2 separate regions of the Homo sapiens genome follow, and region 2 is linked to region 1. Evidence: fine-mapped expression QTL. A gene starts in region 1. The other region holds a variant in brackets. All regions are shown on one strand. Distances are between the middles of the regions.

Region 1 (9,314 bases):
TGTGCACCACTCTCACACCCAAACTGCTACTTTCAACCAAAAAGCTTTTTATTACCCCTCTCTGCTAACCTAAATCTAACCCCACTGAAGGAAAACTCTCTTCTAATCTAGTGAACACTCCTGTGTGTACCTCAGCCTCACCATTCTTACTACTTCTGTATTCTGCTACCACTCGTGTCTTCAACTTAGAGTGCAGCAAAATTCGACACAGATTTGAATCACTATCTGCCAAATCCCATATTGTAATTAAAATGCAACTATGCTATAAGCTCAGTAACCCTGATCCCCAACATCTGCCATAGCAATCCACAATCTGTGCAAAACTACAAGTTATTTAATTATTCAAACAATTTAATATTTGCACGATTTTTTCATGGAATCAGACCTAGATATATATGCTGAGACTCTTGTTTATTTGCCAAATGATCACAGGTTGTTCATTTGATCTGCTAGTTTTCTCATTTTAAAAATGGGGACAATGCTTATTTATACAATAAGGCAGTTTTTAGATTAAACAATATATGCAAAACACCTAGAATAGTGTCTGCCACATGACAGGTAATAATTACAAATACTTCTATAAAGCTTAATATATGCTTTACTTATGTTTATATTACCTCATTTAATCCTCATAACAACTAAAGTAAGCACTACCACTATTCTCATTTTATGAGTGGGGAAACTGAGGCATAGAGCTATTAAATGACTCATAACTGTGAAACCAAAATAAAATTATCAATTCAACTTAAAAATGAATACCAATAAAATTCCAATTCAAAATTATTTCACTGATGTTTTGCTAAACTAAACCCCTGGTAGCAATACAGATGTAGTACCGACCTCCATGGCTATGGCATAGGTTCTTCTTAAGCTGAGTAGTTCCTGCACTGCCGTGTGCTGGATGAGGATTCAATTCTCTCTGCTTATTTTCTTTTGGAAGTACTGTGAAACCACCATGAAGCCCTCTTTCCTATAGTGAACTGGGAAGTAATTTGGCCCTAATGTATTACATGGTGTCTGTTCTTATTAGTCGAAGACAATAGTATTGTTGGCACAATAAGATTGTAAACAAAAAAACAAGGAACCTGATATCCTTTCCAGATCATTCACCATGTACTTCTATTAGTTCTTCCTCTGTGACTTACAACAATAAAATTTTTAACAATCAGAAATTGTGCCTGTGGTAAAAAGGAATTTGAAAAGGAAAAAATATAAAAAAAAGAAATTGTGCCCAGCTTCTCCACTATCCAGACTGAGAAATATTCCCTTAATTCAGGATTCTTAACCCAAAGGCCACAATTCCTTTTAATTCTGGGGGTTGGGGAACTTGGTACCACATACTTTATGTTACGTCATTTTGAGAAGGGGTCTGGAGGCCTCACAGGAGTGCCATGATATAAAAAGTCAGAAACCCCACCTAGGTAATCAAAGATCCAGAGGTGTCTGGGGATCCCCACCCAACAGAACCCAAGGGATGGCATGCTGGCAGTCAGGGTAAGGTGCCTTGAGGAAACCTGTGAACATCTGCACAGAGAAGAAAGCTGGCCTCCAGGCAAGGTCTAGGAAACGCTCTTCAGGTGTGAGCCAGCTCTCTCCTGAAACAGACTTTCACTGATAGCCTTTTCCCACATATATTCAACCAAGTGCACAACTTTGTCTAATTACAAGGAACTACTCCCAGGCTGGGCTGGGCTTTGTACAAGTATCAACAGGCCTTATGACAACCCTGCAAGGCATGTGCCACTACACCCATTTTACATGATGAAGTATTGAGGCCAAAGAGTAAAGTTAATTTGCCCAAGGGCATCAAACCAATGGGTACTGGAGTTGAGGTGTGAATTTGGTCCTGCCTGGCTTCGTTCCTCCCCCTTTCAGCCATGCCTCCTCTCCCATAGGGGGCTCCCTTTTGGGGTTCATTTGATTCACCTCACTTTTGACAAAGAAGAAAACCTAGAGACCCAGATCACTATAGCAATTTAGTGTCAGAGTTGCCTCTGGACTCAGGCTTCTAAAACTCCTCATTTATTGCTGTCCTCTACTCTACACCAACATTCTTGCTGTTTTAGGATAAAATTCAATCTCCCCCAAATCCAAGTGATTTTGCAATTTCATCAGGACAGGCCTCCAGCAAGTACTGCTTTCAGCACAGTACTTAGCCTATACCAGTATCAATCAATATTTGTTAAATACATTCGGAGAAATGCATTAAAAATTTATGATACGAACTTTAGATCAAATCTGCAAACAAATACCTATTGTGTGAGTCAAATTATATTTTTGTTCCCTATAATCACAACCTTATTCGCTCCTTCTTTCAGTCAATTGTCCAAGGTACCCAAGCAAGCACTGTGAGTTTCAAAGACTCATGTGATGCAGGTCTGGTCTCAAAGGTAACACAGAACCAAAAGAGCAAAGAAAACTACAATGCAGAGGAGAAAGGACCCAGAGAAATACTGACAAAGTATCAGTGACAATGGACGAGAGCGATGACCCCAGGAGTACTGGGGGAGACCACTTAGTACTTCACAACATTCTTTGTAGCTTGGCATGCAGTTCTGAAACTATGTTAGATTCTCCCTTTCAAAATCTATCACCCAATTCTTTCTTGAAAAACGTGAGTCAAAGTACAGCCAACTTTGTGGCTGTCCTATTTGAATTCTTGGCATTTTATGAGGAGAGTTTTAAAACAGGTTAATTGGAAAAGTCAAGAACTAAATACGACGATTTTCGCTGCCCGGGTTAAAAAATTACTAACTGCCCCCGCCCCACCCCCCCACCCCCCAAAAAAAATTCTGTACCGAAAAGCATTTATAAAGGGAAAATGTGCTTGGTTTGCAGACTGCAAATAAAACAGGTTAAACATTTTGGGTAGCCATTTAAGTAAAAATCGTTTAACAAATGTCCTGGCTTAGAAGGGGGAAAGGGATCCGCCGGTTTAGAAAGCCCGCCCCCGCCCCCAGGGGGTGCCTACGTGGAGCTCCTGAATCTGGCTCTGGAGAACCCAGAATGTGATTCGCAGGACCTGTCGCATAATTTCACAACCAAGCATTCTTGCATTCTTCTTTGTACCTGAATCGTAGAAAGTTCTGGAAAAAGCTAGGAGTAAGTGATTGACATTCCCTGCTGTTCCTTCAACATAGAGGGGTTCGGTGCTGGGTGGGCAGACACCACCAAACAATGGGGATGCCAGGAGCCCGGTACGGCGGCAGGAGCAGTACCCTGGGCTCGGGGGGATGTAGAAGCCCCATTCCACCCCTAGGGGACAGAACCCAGTAAGGTCGCCCTCGGTGCTCACCACACTCCGGGCAGAGGGGGCCCTGAGACTCCGACCCCCACCCCAGAGAGAGCCTGCCGCTGGACGAGGGGACCGACGGCTGCTAAGAGGCGGATTAGCAGAAACGCGAAACTCACAACCCGCCTCTCTCCCAGAGAAACCAGTATGGAGAAATTAAAGGTCATATAAGATTATTTACCTGCCCCGCGGGCCTGGGATCCCAGGGCATGGCCTGGACGGCCTCGGGGACAAGGGCAGGTGTGTTTGGGGGATAAGAGAGAGAAAATCTGGGGCGCAGGGATGAGAAGGCTGGCAGGGGCACAAATGCGGACCGGGATGGGGATGTCGGAGGAGACCGGGGCGCGCCGGCCGGGCGACAGCACGACCCCGGGAGGCGGTGGAAACCCCCTGCAACTCCCGCCCCGGGGTTGGCGGCGCCGCGGAACCGCCCCACCGCCCCTACTCACTTGAGTCGGAGGCGGGAGCACGTACCGCAGGCGGAGCTAGCGAGGCTGGGCTGGAGGGAGGGTCCAGGGAGTCCGAGATCCCAGGCGAAGCGCGCGCCGGTGCCTTTTAAAGAGCGCTCGGTGGGCGCGGCCTGTGTCCGCCCCGCCCTCCTCCCAGCCCCGCCCGCCGGATTCCCGGAGCCGCTTGCCGGGCTGGGGCGTGTAGCGGGCGGGCTGCCCTCTGCCCGCTCCGGGCTAGCCACCAGGAGACAAAAGGCAGGAGGCCCGCCTCTTCCTGCAGCTTCCCGCCCGCCCGGCATCTTCCCACGTCCCGGGACCGCTCCCTCCCAAAGGGACCCGGCAGTTCCAAAAGCCACTGGGACTTGGAGAGGGACTTCCTTCCCCTCCAGGGAGGCCCGGCGGCGGGACGGTCCCGCTGGAAAGTGGCCCCCGCCGCCCTGCGTCGGACCTGTCCACCGCGAGCGCCGATCCCCCTCTTCGCGGAGACAGTCATGGGCCGGGAGGCTCCAGCAGTAGAAAGTCAGCCAAACGGGGCTTTCCGCCACCTCCCCCTTGCCTTGTCCTTGTCAGTAAACTCAACGTGATTAACTTCCCTAGTTAACGCATATTCTCTCGTCCGATTTCCAGCTTCTGGGAATCCACAACTTCTTATTCTTAAAGAGCAAAATTCATCTAGACTAAATAAATGACGTTACGAAAACGCCCCATTCCCAAAGTGTTTCGCTCTTCCCCTCCACCAGGGCACAGCACGCGATGCTGAGGGGGAAGAAACCTAAACCCAGGCAGAAACCCCGGGCGCCACAGGCCCTGTATTTATATGTGTTGATGTCAGAAAAGCACAAGGATACCGTGACATCCGAAGGGACCTAATGCCTAAGCTACAGGATGATTTATTGTTTTAGATGAAAAGGAAAATAAACAATGCAATCTCTATCTGGTTCATATTCTAGGCCTCCTCATGACCTCTCCTGCCAGAAGCAATGATCCCGGAGAACTGATACTTGCGGAGTGGGGAGTTCAAAAAAGTCAGTGACCAAAACCCCCTCATGCCATAAATGCTATTGCCTCCTCTGGTCCAGAGTTTCTCATCCTCCACACCATTGACATCTTGGGCTGGATAATTCTTTATTGTAGGGGGCTGTCCTGTGCATTGTAGGAGGCCTCCACCCACTAGATGCCAGTTGCAACCTGCCCCCGACGTTGTGACAATCAAAAAGTCTCTGGACATTGCCAAATGCCCTCTTGGGGAGAGGGCAGGGAGCACATATCCGCATGACAACGTACAGAACCGACTTATAATATTATTATTGTTTTATTTTATATGCTGGGGCCAATCCAGGATAAACTCATTATAGCTGCCTTGTTCTCTGTCCACCAAGTACTGTCCAAAAACACATAGTGGTGATTGACATCTCCTGATACTGTGGCAGGAGTCTGGAAAGCATTCTTGCCTGCTGTGAGCTTTTCTAAATATGGGCAATCCTTATTTCAGTGATATCAGCTAGTGTAAGTGACTTGACTCACGGGCCAACAGGAAAATTCAGTCCCTCAGATTCTACATTCGCTTTAGCTCAGCTGCTTACAATGTTTATTTTTTCTTGTATAAGTTTGCCTAGTGCTTCTACTGAATGAAACTGTATCAGTGAGTCTCACTGCAGCAAACCACTGCCCTTTCTCTCCTACCCTGAGTTCTTCTCAATGCCTCTTTGTGGAAGGGGCCTCCCAAACCTGAGCTGTTTGCTTTCCGTCAAGCTCATGTTGTCCCTAAATTCCATAGCCATGTCTTATCATTTGAAATTGGGCTTGTTGGCCGGGCGTGGTGGCACATGTCTGTAATCCCAGCTACTTGGAGGCTGAGGCAGGAGAATCACTTGAACCTGAGAGGTGGAGGTTGCAGTGAGTGGAGATCACGTCAATGCACTCCAGCCTGAGTGACAGAGGGAGACTCCGTCTCAAAAAAACAAAACAAAACAAAAAAGAAATTGGGCTTGTTTCTGACCTAAAAGTGTTTCTGCTGTCTGTCCCTGTATGTGTTTGTCTCCGTGTACTTCACACTGAGTCTGCAGATGATATACAACGTGTGATTTTGAACAAATCTGTATTTGTATTTATCAACATTTAAAAAATATTTATTTTCTTTAAACATCTATTTAAACTGTTGACTCTTTTAGTTATGAACATGAAGAAATTATTTAAGAGTTTTTAGACAGAGTGGTGCAAAAGAAAGAGTATGGGCTTTGGAATCAAACACACATGATTTCAACATACAGCTCTGCCACCTATCAGTTTTGTAAGCTTGGGCTAAGTACTTGACCTCTATGCATCTGTTTCTTTATCTGTAAAAAGATAATTCTACACATCTTGTAGTGTTGTTATGAGGATTAAATTGGGTGATGTATGTAAAATGCCAAACATAGCACCTGGCACATGGTAAATACTGAATAATTGATGGTTGTTATGTTAAGCAAAGATATCTTGATGTCCTTTTTGCCTCTCAAGAAAGAAATAAAATTGTGCTTTGCTAAGTACTCATGTTGCCTTCTTGAGGGCTTGCTATTAAGAAGGTATGGAGTGTTTTCCAAAACAATTAAGAGTCTTCAGTAGGAAGCATCTGCGCGCCTGCAGAAGGATAGTGGGAAAAATGTGTCCTCAAGGAGAAGGATAAACCCTTAAGTCCACATGGTCCTAGTCTGTTTGACCCCTTCAACCTTGTAATAGGCAGAATCAAAGGTTAAATGTGTCCAGCAGGCTATTTCTTTTTCCCACTCAAAATGTGTATTATACTTGTAACAACTCTATTCTCTGGAATTCATCAACCAATTTCAAATCAAAGCCCTCTCTCAAGGTCACTGTCCTAAGGCAAGTTGAACCAAGGTTGTTGCCTTTTGTCATGACCTTGTGCTTCAAACGTAGATTTTAAAAATATTTTTATTATTTTTATTTCATGCCCCTTTTTCTTAACAAAACTCTGAATCAGATGAATGTGAATTTAAACACAAAGCCTCTTTATTTTAGGGCAAGGCTTTCTTCCCAGAAGGCAAGAAAGCTATAGTGAAGAGGAATGTCTTATTATAATGATTTTAGTATGAAAAAAAGGGAAACAATTTGCACTTTGCTAACCTACACATTTAATAACACAAAAAGAAGCAGTTTTTCTACCTTATTTCTTAGCTAAGATTTAGCAGCAGTTGTGGGAATTAAAAATTACTCATACTTAACCCTAATACTCTGTGATTTATTATCTGACAGAGAAAAGAATAATGTAAGTGATATATGCTTAAATGTTGGAAGGTAGATTAGAGTATCTTATTCTTGATATTTGTCATAGTTGCTTTTTTTAACCTGCTATAAACTCCTACTTTCTTATACTTGCTTCATTTCCTAACTCTCTTTCTCCAGTAGGCATTATTTTCATTCAGTGCTATTATCTTCTATTATGATGTTATTTATTTCTTCTTTTCAACCAGAGCTTTCTATCTTTTTGAGCTCTGCTTCTGCTTTCATATTATAGCAGAGTTTTTCTAGTTCTACTAGTAAGAAAGACACCATTAACTTCCCAGACAGCATATTCTATCCATCTTATCTTAACCCCTTAATTCCTTTATCTCACTTTTCTCCCTCTTTTTCAGCTGGTGACATCACCTTCTTCTCCTTCATTCACATTCACAGCCAGTCACCAACATTTCCTCAACCTTCCTCCACTTTGCCTCGAAGCTTCCATGTTTTCTCCTATGTTTGTACTTGCTGTCCCTGATCTTGGAGGAGCAAATGGTTCTCCCACTCCCTACCAACAGTGTCCACTCTGCCTAGGCTTTTGATCCATTTCTTTGGCATTTTTTAGTTATACAGTCATGTGCCACTTAGTGATGGGAACAGGTTCTAAGGAATGCATCATGAGACAATTTTACCATTATGCCAACATTGTAGAGTATACTTACACAAACCTACACCATATGGCCTAAGGTATAGCCTATTGCTCATGGGCTACAAACCTGTACAGCATGTGACTGTACAGAACACCACAGGCAATGGCAACACAATAGTATTTGTGTATCTAAACATATCTAAATATAGAAAAGGTACAGCAAAAACACAGTATTGTAGTGTTACAGGACCACCCTCATATTTGTGATCTGTTGTTGATTGAAAATCTTCATGTGGCACGTGATTGTACTCCCTTGCTGTTCAATTTCAGGCTCTATTGCTTTCTTTCCTTTCAAATGACAAAAATTCTGCTCACCCCGTATTTTTAAAAGCTGACATAAATATCCCTGAGTCGTGTAGTAGGTATTTGTGATTGCCTCTGTAGCATCCATTCCTCTCTGTGTGGTTTCAGGCATGTGAGTTCATGGTCCTGTTTCAGGGTGGAGCACTGGATCCAGTCAAGGCATTTGAGGCCCCGGCTTGGGGATGGTAAGCACGTGACCTAAGCCCATCCAATTAGAGTGAATCTCAGAACTCTGCTGGGGTGCGGAGTCAGAGCCAAGCTAGCCTATTCTGGAATGTGCTATGTGCATGGAGGAGGCCTTAGAGTGGTTGCAGTCATTTTTGCTAGGAACCTGGCCACGGATGACTTGACACAGACAAGAGGACAGAGAAAACAGAGCTCTGAACAAGTATTCACCAAGTTTACCTACCTGCAGGGCTTTTTCATTATGGGAGCCAATGAGTCCCCATTGCTGTTTAATCCATTTTGAGATGGATTTTCTGTTACTTGCAGTTAGGACTCCCAACAGATTGTGATGGCTTAAAATCATGTCCATGGATTCTTTGTTACTCCCCCCTTCAACAGGTAGAATTTAATTCATGCCCTTACCCTTGGGTGCGGGCTAGATTTAGTGCCTTGCTTCTAGAAAATAGAATGAAGTGCATGATTTTGAGACTAAGTCAAAAAACGCTTTGTGACAACTTTTTCCTCATTCTTCCCCCACCCTTTTCTTTTATCCATCCTCCCCCATCTCCAACATCCTGCCAACATGTGTGTGTGTGTGTGTGTGTGTTTCATCACTGCTATGGGGAAAGCCAGCTGCCATGTCAGGAGGACACTCAAGCAGTTAAGAACAGTGGCCTGTGGCCAACAGTCCCAGAGGAGCTAAAGCCTTCTGCCAACAAAAATATGAGTGAGCTTGGAAGGAGATATTACAGTACAGTACTGTCAAGCTTTGAAATGACTCCAGCCCTGGCTGACACTTTGACTGCAACCTCGTTAGAGATACTGAGACTCTCACTGTGGTCATTGGAGAGTTCCTAATTGCCAAACCCCCAACTGCTATTTTTCAGTCCTTACCCTACTTGACCTCTTAGTAATTGGACAACATTGAGTAAACATATGATTGTGTATACATGCACAGAATGAAATATTTTAGAAGGATGACACTTCTGAAATTTCTCACAAATGTTAACTTCTGTCTCTAGCTACTGTTCTGATGAGAAATGGAAAGAAATTTTGAAAGCTACCACCACTAGAAAGCTTAGTTTCTCCCCTAAAAAACTGTAATGTGAGCAACAGAGGATGCGTTAAACAATGTTTTTTATTATCTCACTTGTGATAAGATATACCATTTTATAAATAT
Region 2 (9,314 bases), 26 kb after region 1:
GCAATGAGTTTATTCTGAGACCAGGAAAAAAGCTTTTTCATCATTTCCTTTTCCTGCTCAGGAAAAAAAATCATTGTACATAATTTAACAAAGAAAGTAGAATTTTCTACTTTCTACTTTAGTGAATTCCCTCAACCGTCTTTAGTAGTGGGGAGAGAAAGCTGTGTTTTCAGGAAAATGTGGTTTGCCAGGCTCCCTTTTTTCTGTCACGGCAGTGATGGTGAGCAGGCTCCTGATAGGAGGGAAAGCCTTCCTCTTCTCCAGCAAGACTAAACCAAAACTGCATCAAAACCCAAGAAACAAAACCAAACAAAGAGGGAACAAAACAGGACTTCCCTTTGCTAGTTCCTGACATAGTTCTCTCTTGTCTGTTCCACCTGTTTTTTCCCTCCTAAGTGAAATGACCCAGTAAGTTTACCAAGTTGAGTATGTCATGCACAGGAATCTCAGATTTCTTAGGCTGGTTTTATCAATTAATTAATGCATGATGTTGTTGGAAACTGTGGTACTCAATTCCAATTACAATGAACTCTAGAGAATATAAACAATTTTAAAACAAGAAACAGTTTTAATAGACATGGTTAGAAACAGGTTGAAAGGAAACCACATTCATTGACTTTGTGGTAACAAGGAGAAAGGATTAAACTCAGAAGGAAATTCTTTGTTTTTTATGTTAACTTCTAGAGCGATGATTTGAGAATTTGTACAACATGAAAGGAAGTGTTTCTTTGACAGCAGGACAAAAGAAATATGTGGCTTTTAGCTACCATCCAGCTTAACTCTTCCCTCTACAGGAAATAATTATAAACCTGTAGAGTAATTCTTTTTTTAAAAAAGAGACATGGACAAGTATTTACTCTGCAACACAAGAGTGCGTTGTAATCAGATTGTCAGAGGTGTTCAAACCAGAGCGACCCTATCCTTTTTTTTTTTTTTTTTTTTTTTGAGATGGAGTCTCACTCTGTCGCCCAGGCTGGAGTGCAGTGGCACAATCTCGGCTTACTGCAAGCTCCGCCTCCCGGGTTCACGCCATTCTCCTGCCTCAGCCTCCCGAGTAACTGGGACTACAGGCGCCCGCCACAACGCCCGGCTGATTTTTTGTGTTTTTTAGTAGAGACGGGGTTTCACCGTGGTCTCGATCTCCTGACCTCATGATCTCGGCCTCCCAAAGTGCTGGGATTACAGGCGTGAGCCGCCGCGCCCGGCCCAGGGCAACCCCATCTTAAATAGGTGCTGGGTAAAATGAGGCTCAGACCTGCTGAATTGTATTCCTAGGAGGTTACGCATTCTTAGTCACAGGATGAGATAAGAGGTCTGCAGGACTGATATCAAAGGATACAGATAATAAAGACCCTGCTGAGGCAGGGTACAGTGGCTCACACCTGTAATCCCAGCACTTTGGGAGGCCAAGGTGGGTGGACCACTTGAGGTCAGGAGTTTGAGACCAGCCTGACCAACATGGTGGAACACTGTCTCCACTAAAAATACAAAAATTAGCCAGGCATGGTGGCACACACCTGTAATCCCAGCTACTCAGGAGACTGAGGTGCTAGAATCACTTGAACCTGGGAGGCAGAGGTTCCAGTAAGCCGAGATCATGTCATTGCACTCCAGCCCAGGCAACAAGAACAAAACTCTGTCTCAAAAAACAAAACAAAACAAAACAAAAAAAACCTGCTGATAAAACAGGATGCAGTAAAGAAGCCAGCCAAAACCCACCAAAATCAAGTGACCTGTGGTCATCCTCATTGCTCATTATATGCTAATTATAATACATTGGCATGCTAGATGGCACTTCCATCAGTGCCATGACGGTTTACAAGTGCCATGACAATTTCCCGAAGTTACGCTATATAGTCTAAAAAGGTGAGGAACCCTCAGTTCTGGGAAACTCATGAATAATCCCTCAGCTCCGCTAAACTCATGAATTGTTTAACGTATGATCAATAAATAACCATAAAAATAGCCAACCGGCAGTCCTCAGTGTTGCTTTGCCTATGGAGTAGCCATTCTTTTGTTTCCTTACTTTCTTAACGAATTTACTTGCACCTTACTCTGTGGACTCGCTCCAAATTCCTTCTTGCATGAGATCCACAAACCCTCTCTTGGGGTCTGGATCAAGACCTCTTTCTGGTAACAAGATCAATAGCACACTGCAGTTGTGGATATTCTGCTGTGATATTAAATATATTATATAAAATCCTTCTTCATAATGGTATTTACTATAATAATATTTTATTTGTAGTATTAAAAATGCTACAGGATCAATCATTTTTACGTTATTTTATGTGTATCCTACATAGCTAGTGATATGGTTTGGCTATGTCCTCACCCAAATCTCATCTTGAATTCCCACGTGTTGTGGGAGGGACCCAGTGGGAGGTAATTGAATCATGGGGGCAGGTCTTTCCCATGCTGTTCCTGTGATAGTGAATAAGTCTCATGAGCTCTGATGGTTTTATAAAGGGGAGTTTCCTTGGACAAGCTCTCTTTACTTGTTGGCCGCCATGCCTGACGTGCCTTTTGCCTTCTGCCATGATTGTGAGGCCTCCCCAGCCACGTGGAACTGTGAGCCCATTAAACCTCTTTCTTTTGTGAATTGCCCAGTCTCAGGTATGTCTTTTATCAGCAGCGTGAAAACAGACTAATACAGCTAGTATACTGTGGGTACTTGGTATTTGTACCAGATGTATCATAGGTGTTCATTAACTGTTGAATAAAAGAAGGTTGATTTGTTTTAGCAAGCCTGTATTAAATAGTTCCTCTAAATTCTTATGTGTTTTTTTTTTTTTGGTAAGACTTAAATGATAATTTAATGTGTTTATCTCTTCCCAACAATGTACCTAGAGATCCCACAGATGTCTAGAACCCATTTGGCAGCTTTCTTAATATTACATTGAAGCACTATTAAGATTAATTCACCTTTTTTTTGTTTTGTTTTTGAGACAGAGTCTCGCTCTGTCTCCCAGGCTGGAGTGTAGTGGCATGATCTCGGCTCACTGCAAGCTCCGCCTCCTGTGTTCATGCCATTCTCCTGCCTCAGCCTCCCGAGTAGCTGGGACTACAGGCGTCCGCCACCGCGCCAGGCTAATTTTTGTATTCTTAGTAGAGACGGGGTTTCACTGCGTTAGCCAGAATGGTCTCGATCTCCTGACCGCATGACCGGCCGGCCTCGGCCTCCCAAAGTGCTGGGATTACAGGCATGAGCCACCGCACCTGGCACCTTATAATCTTAGAAGCCTTGGATACCAAAATTAATTAATAGTGCTTCCCATGCTTCATATATAGGAAAGATTGATTCTCTATAGGTCACTTTTCCAGAGTGAGTTTTCCAAATTAAAGAGAAAAAAAAGCCTGATTAAGCTTTTATCAACTAATAATTCTCCACATTAATCCATGGGATAAATATTAGAATTAGAATACCTGGCTATTCAATTGTCAGTTCTTTTTTACTAAACAGAAACTTTGAGATGTGTTATTTTAGAAAGGCTCGATAGTGACAGAACTTTTCTCTTAAACTTACAGTGGCCCTGAAATTTGCTACCACTGACTTTAACCATACATATTAAAGGTGTAAGGAGATTGAGATATGTGACAGATTCCATTTCCCAAGGATGGTCACACACTATATCCCATCCCATACGCTCTTACAGGGTAATGTTGATACTCCTCCTATCAAGGGGATAGGATTTATTATTTCTTTTCCTTGATCTAAGAGGCTTGTGACCATGGTAGAAGTGTCCCTACATGACTTCTGGGGTTAAGTCAGAAAAGGTGATATAGCTCTGTCTAGTGCTTTTGGACGCTTGATCTCAAAACCCAACCACCATGTTGTGAGGAAGCTCAGCCACATAGCTGGATGTGGGTGTTCCAGACTGCCACTTTGACTGACATCCCAGATGATAGCCAGAATCAATAGGACCTGTGGGTGAAGAAGCCTTCAAGATGACTCTAGCACCAGAAATTGTCAAACTGCACGGGAAAAAAAATCCAAGAGCGAATTATCCTGCTGAACTGAGTAAACCTCCAGAATTGTGAATTAGTAATAAAAATGATTGTTGTTGTAAGCCCCTAAGGTTTAGGGGGATGCTTTATGCAGCAATAAATAACTGA[T/A]GTTAAAGCAAACTAAATACGGCTGGAAAAGGACCCCATATTTCTTTTCTTTCTTTTTTTTTTTTTTGAGACTGAGTTTTGCTCTTGTTGCCCAGGCTGGAGTGCAGCAGCGTGATCTCGGCTGACTGCAACTTTCACCTCCCGGGTTCAAGCGATACTCCTGCCTCAGCCTCCCGAGTAGCTGGGATTACAGGTGTGCACCACCACGCCTGGCTAATTTTTGTATTTTTAGTATAGATGGGGTTTCACCATGTTGGTCAGGCTGGTCTCGAACTCCTGACCTCAGGTGATCCCCTGCCTTGGCCTCCCAAAATGCTGGGGTTATAGGCGTGAGCCACTGTGCCCAGCCAGGACTCCATATTTTATATTTGAGTCCTTGTGGATGAACGGCAACCTAACAGACTGAAAACTTAGCATAGGAGTATGCGTCTGTAACAATAGCTGAGTCTTGGCCAATTCCAGCAGTGTACTTCAACCACTCATATGCTGCTGAGTGTTCAAACTGTGTTTAAATAAGGCAAACGCCAACCTGTAGCCAATCCAGCTGTTTCTGTACTTCACTTTTGATTTCTATACATTACATTTTTTGTCTATAAATTTGTTCTGACCACGAGGCACCCCTGGAGTCTCTGTAAATCTGCTGTGATTCTGGGGGCTGCCTGATTCGCGAGTCGTTCATTACTCAAACTCCTTTAAATTTAATTCAGCTAAAGTTTTTCTTTTAACACTGGGATAAGATAAAATGAAGTTCTATTTAATTCCCTGAGTAGGCTTTGTGGTCTAAAGAAATTCAGAGACAGTACTCTCGATTTTTTTGAGAGAAGATTTTCTTCTGATCACATAGCAACAAACTATGGAAAGAGAAGTCAGGCTGGACTGTTAATTATGTAGCAGTCAGAACTCATCTCTCAGTTCAGTCAAGATTACTGGGAAAACCACAACAGCCTGACAAAATTAGGGGGATACTTCCAAAACCTGGGACATAGGAAAAGCCAATTACAAACTACAGATATGCAAAATATGGTATAACTTTTGGTTTTTAAAATGTTCTTTTTTGTACATAATTGGGCTCATCGAGGGCATAGATTTTTTTTGTTGTTGTTCTGTTTTATTCATGTTGTACTCTCAAGGCCTGGGATCATGCCTGGCACAGGGCTCAATAAATATGTCAAATGAATAAATAAATGTAAACACATTTGTCAGAATAAGCACCAAAATTTATTTCTGGCAGATAGGATTATGTGTGAGTTTTTTTTTTTTTTCTATCTTCTTTGTTTTTTTCTAATTTCTCTACCATGATCATAGATTACTTATATAAAATACTTGTAAAAGGCCATAGAGTTTTATTTTAGAGTAACATAAGCTTTAAAATACCTACACATGCACATCTATCCAAATCTATTTCTGAGCAAAATATCCTTTTAGGAAGAATAGAGGCGCATAATAACAGATCTCAAGAGAAGGCTTTGTGTTGTGTGGGCAGGGCTAGAAATACATGAAGATTTTTTTTGGCCACCAAATGACTTCTCTACAGGTGATCATTGAAACACAGATTTCTGTCAATGGTTGAAGTATTTCACTTATTTTATTTTCTTATTATAATCTCTGTATTTAGCTCAGCTGGGATTCCTTTGGTCTGCCAATTTTAAAAAGTTACATCATCACCTTATTCCAAAAAATGCCCCTAAGAGAAAGTCTCTTGCCCTCACAACTGTTCAAATTTAGGATGGAAAATAGATTTTAGTTTGCATGCCAATTTGATTAATTGTACTCACTGGTGATTCTTAGCATACTCTGTGTAAGATCTGAGGTTATAGTTTTACCTGGTGGATTTGCAATGTCTACCATAAATTAAGTAGAGAGGAGAAGAGGCATGGTTGCCTTGTGAGTGCATGATTCAGTGAGTTACTGTTATCTTAATTTGTTGTGTATTAGATGTTACTTCTTTATAAACTATTGATCCTATTTAGCTTCTCAGGGGCCCCCAAAGATGTCCACATCCTAATCCCTGGAATTGGGATAACAGTGAGTCTTCACTGACCTGAGAGATTAGATGATCACTGATATGTAATTGGCAGTCAAGTTTGACTTCTCTTTCCATTGTTGTTGTTATGTAAATATGTCACATGGCAAAGGAGAATTAAGATGGAATAAGTTTGCCAATCAGCTAAGGTAGGGAGAGAAGCCTGGATTACCTATGTGTTACCAGAAAAGGGATCTCATCCCAGACCACAGGAGTGAGTTCTTGGATCTCACATAGGAGAGAATTCAGAGTGAGTCTCAGAATATAGTGAAGTTAAAATAGTTTCTTAGAAAATACTCTATTACAGAGTAGGGCTTGCTGAGAAAGCAAGAGGAGGAATGTCCCTACCTCAGACATAAGGCTTACTTACATGGGATATTAAGGCTAAGAATAGTGTACTTTATTACAAAAGGTTGTGTTGAGCTTATGACAGACTTAGTATTACTATTCTCTTGTGCAATTATTACTTTTAGCAAGAATTTATGAGGATACTATTACCTTTAGAGGGAAACCTATTTTTAAACTAAGAATGCCTTTTCCCATTAGCTCGTTTCCTCAACCATAAACATCTTGTGATCAATAACGCCTAACTTCCTGGAAATGTAACCCAGCAGGTCTTGCTTTATCTGGCTTTTATTCAAGGTGAAATCACTCTGGTTAGGATGTCTCTGACATAGGTGGGCACATTGTAATCACAGGGTCCTTAGAAGTGGAAGAGGAGCCGGGTGCAGTGGCTCATCCCTGTAATCCCAGTGCTCTGGGAGGCTGAAGCTGGGGGGATCGCTTGAGACCAGGAGTTCAAGACCAGCATGAGCAACAAAGAGCTCTCCCCCATCTCCCGCCCCTTGTTCCTCCCACCTCACCATCCCCCTCCCCCAGGCTCTACAAATGTTAAAAAAAATTAGCCAGGCATGGTAGTGCACCTGTGGTCCTAGCTACTTAAGAGGCTGAGGTGGGAGGATTCCTTGAGCCCGGGAGGACAAGGCTGCAGTGAGCTATAATCACACTACTGCACTCAGCCTGGGTGACAGAGCAAGACCCTGTCTCAAAAATATAAATAAATAACAATGAAAGTGGAAGAGGAGACACAAAAGAAGTCAGAGGGACTCCTTTTGTGACAACAGGAAAGAGACCCAGAGAGTTGGTAGCATAAGGACGCTGCTTGACATTGCCAGCTCTGAAGACTCATGGAGGGAGCCAAGAGTTAGGGACGGAACTCTAGAAGCTGGAAAAGGCAAAGAAACAGATTCTCCTCTTGAGTCCTCAGAAAGGGATGCACCCTGTTGGCACCTTGATCTCAGCCCAGTGGGATCCATGTCAGACTTCTAATGCACAGAACTATAAGATAATAAACTGGTATGTTTAAGCCACCAAGTTTCTGGTAATTTATTAACAGCTGCAAGACAAAACTAATTCACAAAATATGGCTTATTCTACCTTTAAAAAGGAAAATGTGACTCAGTCCTCTCCCAACTGCTGATCCATTGGCTTTTCTGGATGCTACTTTCAAATTCATTGCTAGTTTCTTCTCATAATTGTAGGATCGAGTCTCTCAACCTAAATATTACTTTTAGTGGCAAAAACTGCAATTACTTTTGCACCGACCTAATATGTTGTAGTAAATTGTATGAGAAGCAAGCAGCTTTTATCATTGCTGATAAATGGCCTTTTAATCTCCCTTCTTTCCAAATAATTCTTGTCTATCTAGTCAGACCACAAGTCATTAAGCAATTAAAAGACAATATAAAATAAAGCATTTGAAATTCAAGCACTCTAGGCCAGGCATGGTGGCTCACGCCTGTAATCCGAGCACTTTGGGATCGCTGAGCACTGATTGCTTGAGCCCAGGGGGTGGAGGTTGCAGTGGGCTGAGACTGGGGCACTGCACTTCCAGTCTGGGTGACAGAGCAAGACTCTGTCTCAAAAAGAAAAAACAAACAAACAAAAGAAATTGGAGCGCTGTAATGTAAAAAAGGAGAGAGGTTAATATTAGCTAGAGTTACTAGCTATGGCTTTAAGGAAAAACTATAATCACTGAATATCAGATTTATAAAAAATAGTTATTAAAAGAACCAACTATCAGTTCATAAGCATTATCTTATATAATTGATAGAACAACCTTATAAAGTAGGAATTATTGTCTCTATTTTACACATGAGGATATCAAGGTCTAGTCTAGGAATTAACTTGTTCAAGTAGGATTATAGAAGTTCTTTGGATACAGTTAGATAATATTTTCCTTTGGGGTAAAAAGATTTGATTTCTGACCTGTTCTCTCAAATCTGTAGTTTAATGACATGATACACTTTTTGAAACAGTGGGAATATGTAGATGGTTGCTTTAATCTCAGGAACTATGATTGCTTTTTAAGAGGCAATAGCCCTAATATTTAGTAATAACCAAAGCAATGTCTATAGCAATGCTTCTCAAATTATGTGGCATTTTAGGAGCACCCGAAGAACTTTAAAGAGTCCCAATGTCCAGGCTACACTCCACACCAGTTAAATGCAAATGTTTGAAGTGGATTTAGACCTCAGTGTTTTTTTTTAAAGCATCCAAGGAAATTCCAAGTTTGGGAACTCTTGATCTATAACCAGGGATTGCATTTTTGTTAGTTTTCTCCCCAGCATTTAACTGGTTTATTGTATGTAATATTCAGTTACATGAGATTACATTTTTTTTTAACCACCCTGTTTTGAGGAGTCACCAGAAAGTTGTTTCTCGAGATTAGAAGCTTAATGAAATTCAGGTTGTGTTCAACTATAGATTCATTTTTAATGGGTTTTGGATTTCTGAGCCTGCTGGTGATATTTCCTAACATTTTTTCTTAATTTGTGTGACATATATATATATATATATATATATATATATATATATACACACACACATTTTTTTTTTCCGTTTGGAACCCTTCCAATGCCTTCACTCTCTGTACTTTCTCTATTTTTTTTTCCCCCTGTGGATTTCATCTGACTGGAAGTACTTTTTCTATTTATATCGCTAGTACATGTTTAAAGAATGTCTATCATTCTAGTCTATTACTATTAAGTTGGTCATATTATACTGACATTAAGACAAAAACTCAGAAGCAGGAAAACCTTTTAAACTGTACGTAAATAAAGGAAATCCAAACAAAGACACTACCAGTCTTGTGATCTGAGTTCCTACAGAAAGGGTA

Evidence for each region.
Region 2: its variant is fine-mapped to the expression of CSRP2 in tibial artery (GTEx, PIP above 0.99). The same link has a PIP of 0.9 or more in spleen.

What each region holds. Positions count from the first base shown.
Region 1 is chr12:76,875,197-76,884,510 of GRCh38, forward strand. CSRP2 (cysteine and glycine rich protein 2) reads right to left here and starts at 3,823. Exons shown (of 6, transcript NM_001321.3): 1 at 3,742-3,823. LOC124902971 (a long non-coding RNA gene) reads left to right here and starts at 3,163. Exons shown (of 2, transcript XR_007063380.1): 1 at 3,163-3,454; 2 at 4,692-6,269. RefSeq lists silencers at 3,583-4,012, 4,043-4,092.
Region 2 is chr12:76,901,505-76,910,818 of GRCh38, forward strand. No RefSeq gene overlaps it. Among named protein-coding and RNA genes, the nearest start is that of CSRP2, 27 kb to the left of the region's middle. The variant T/A (reference allele first, on the strand shown) is at 4,114.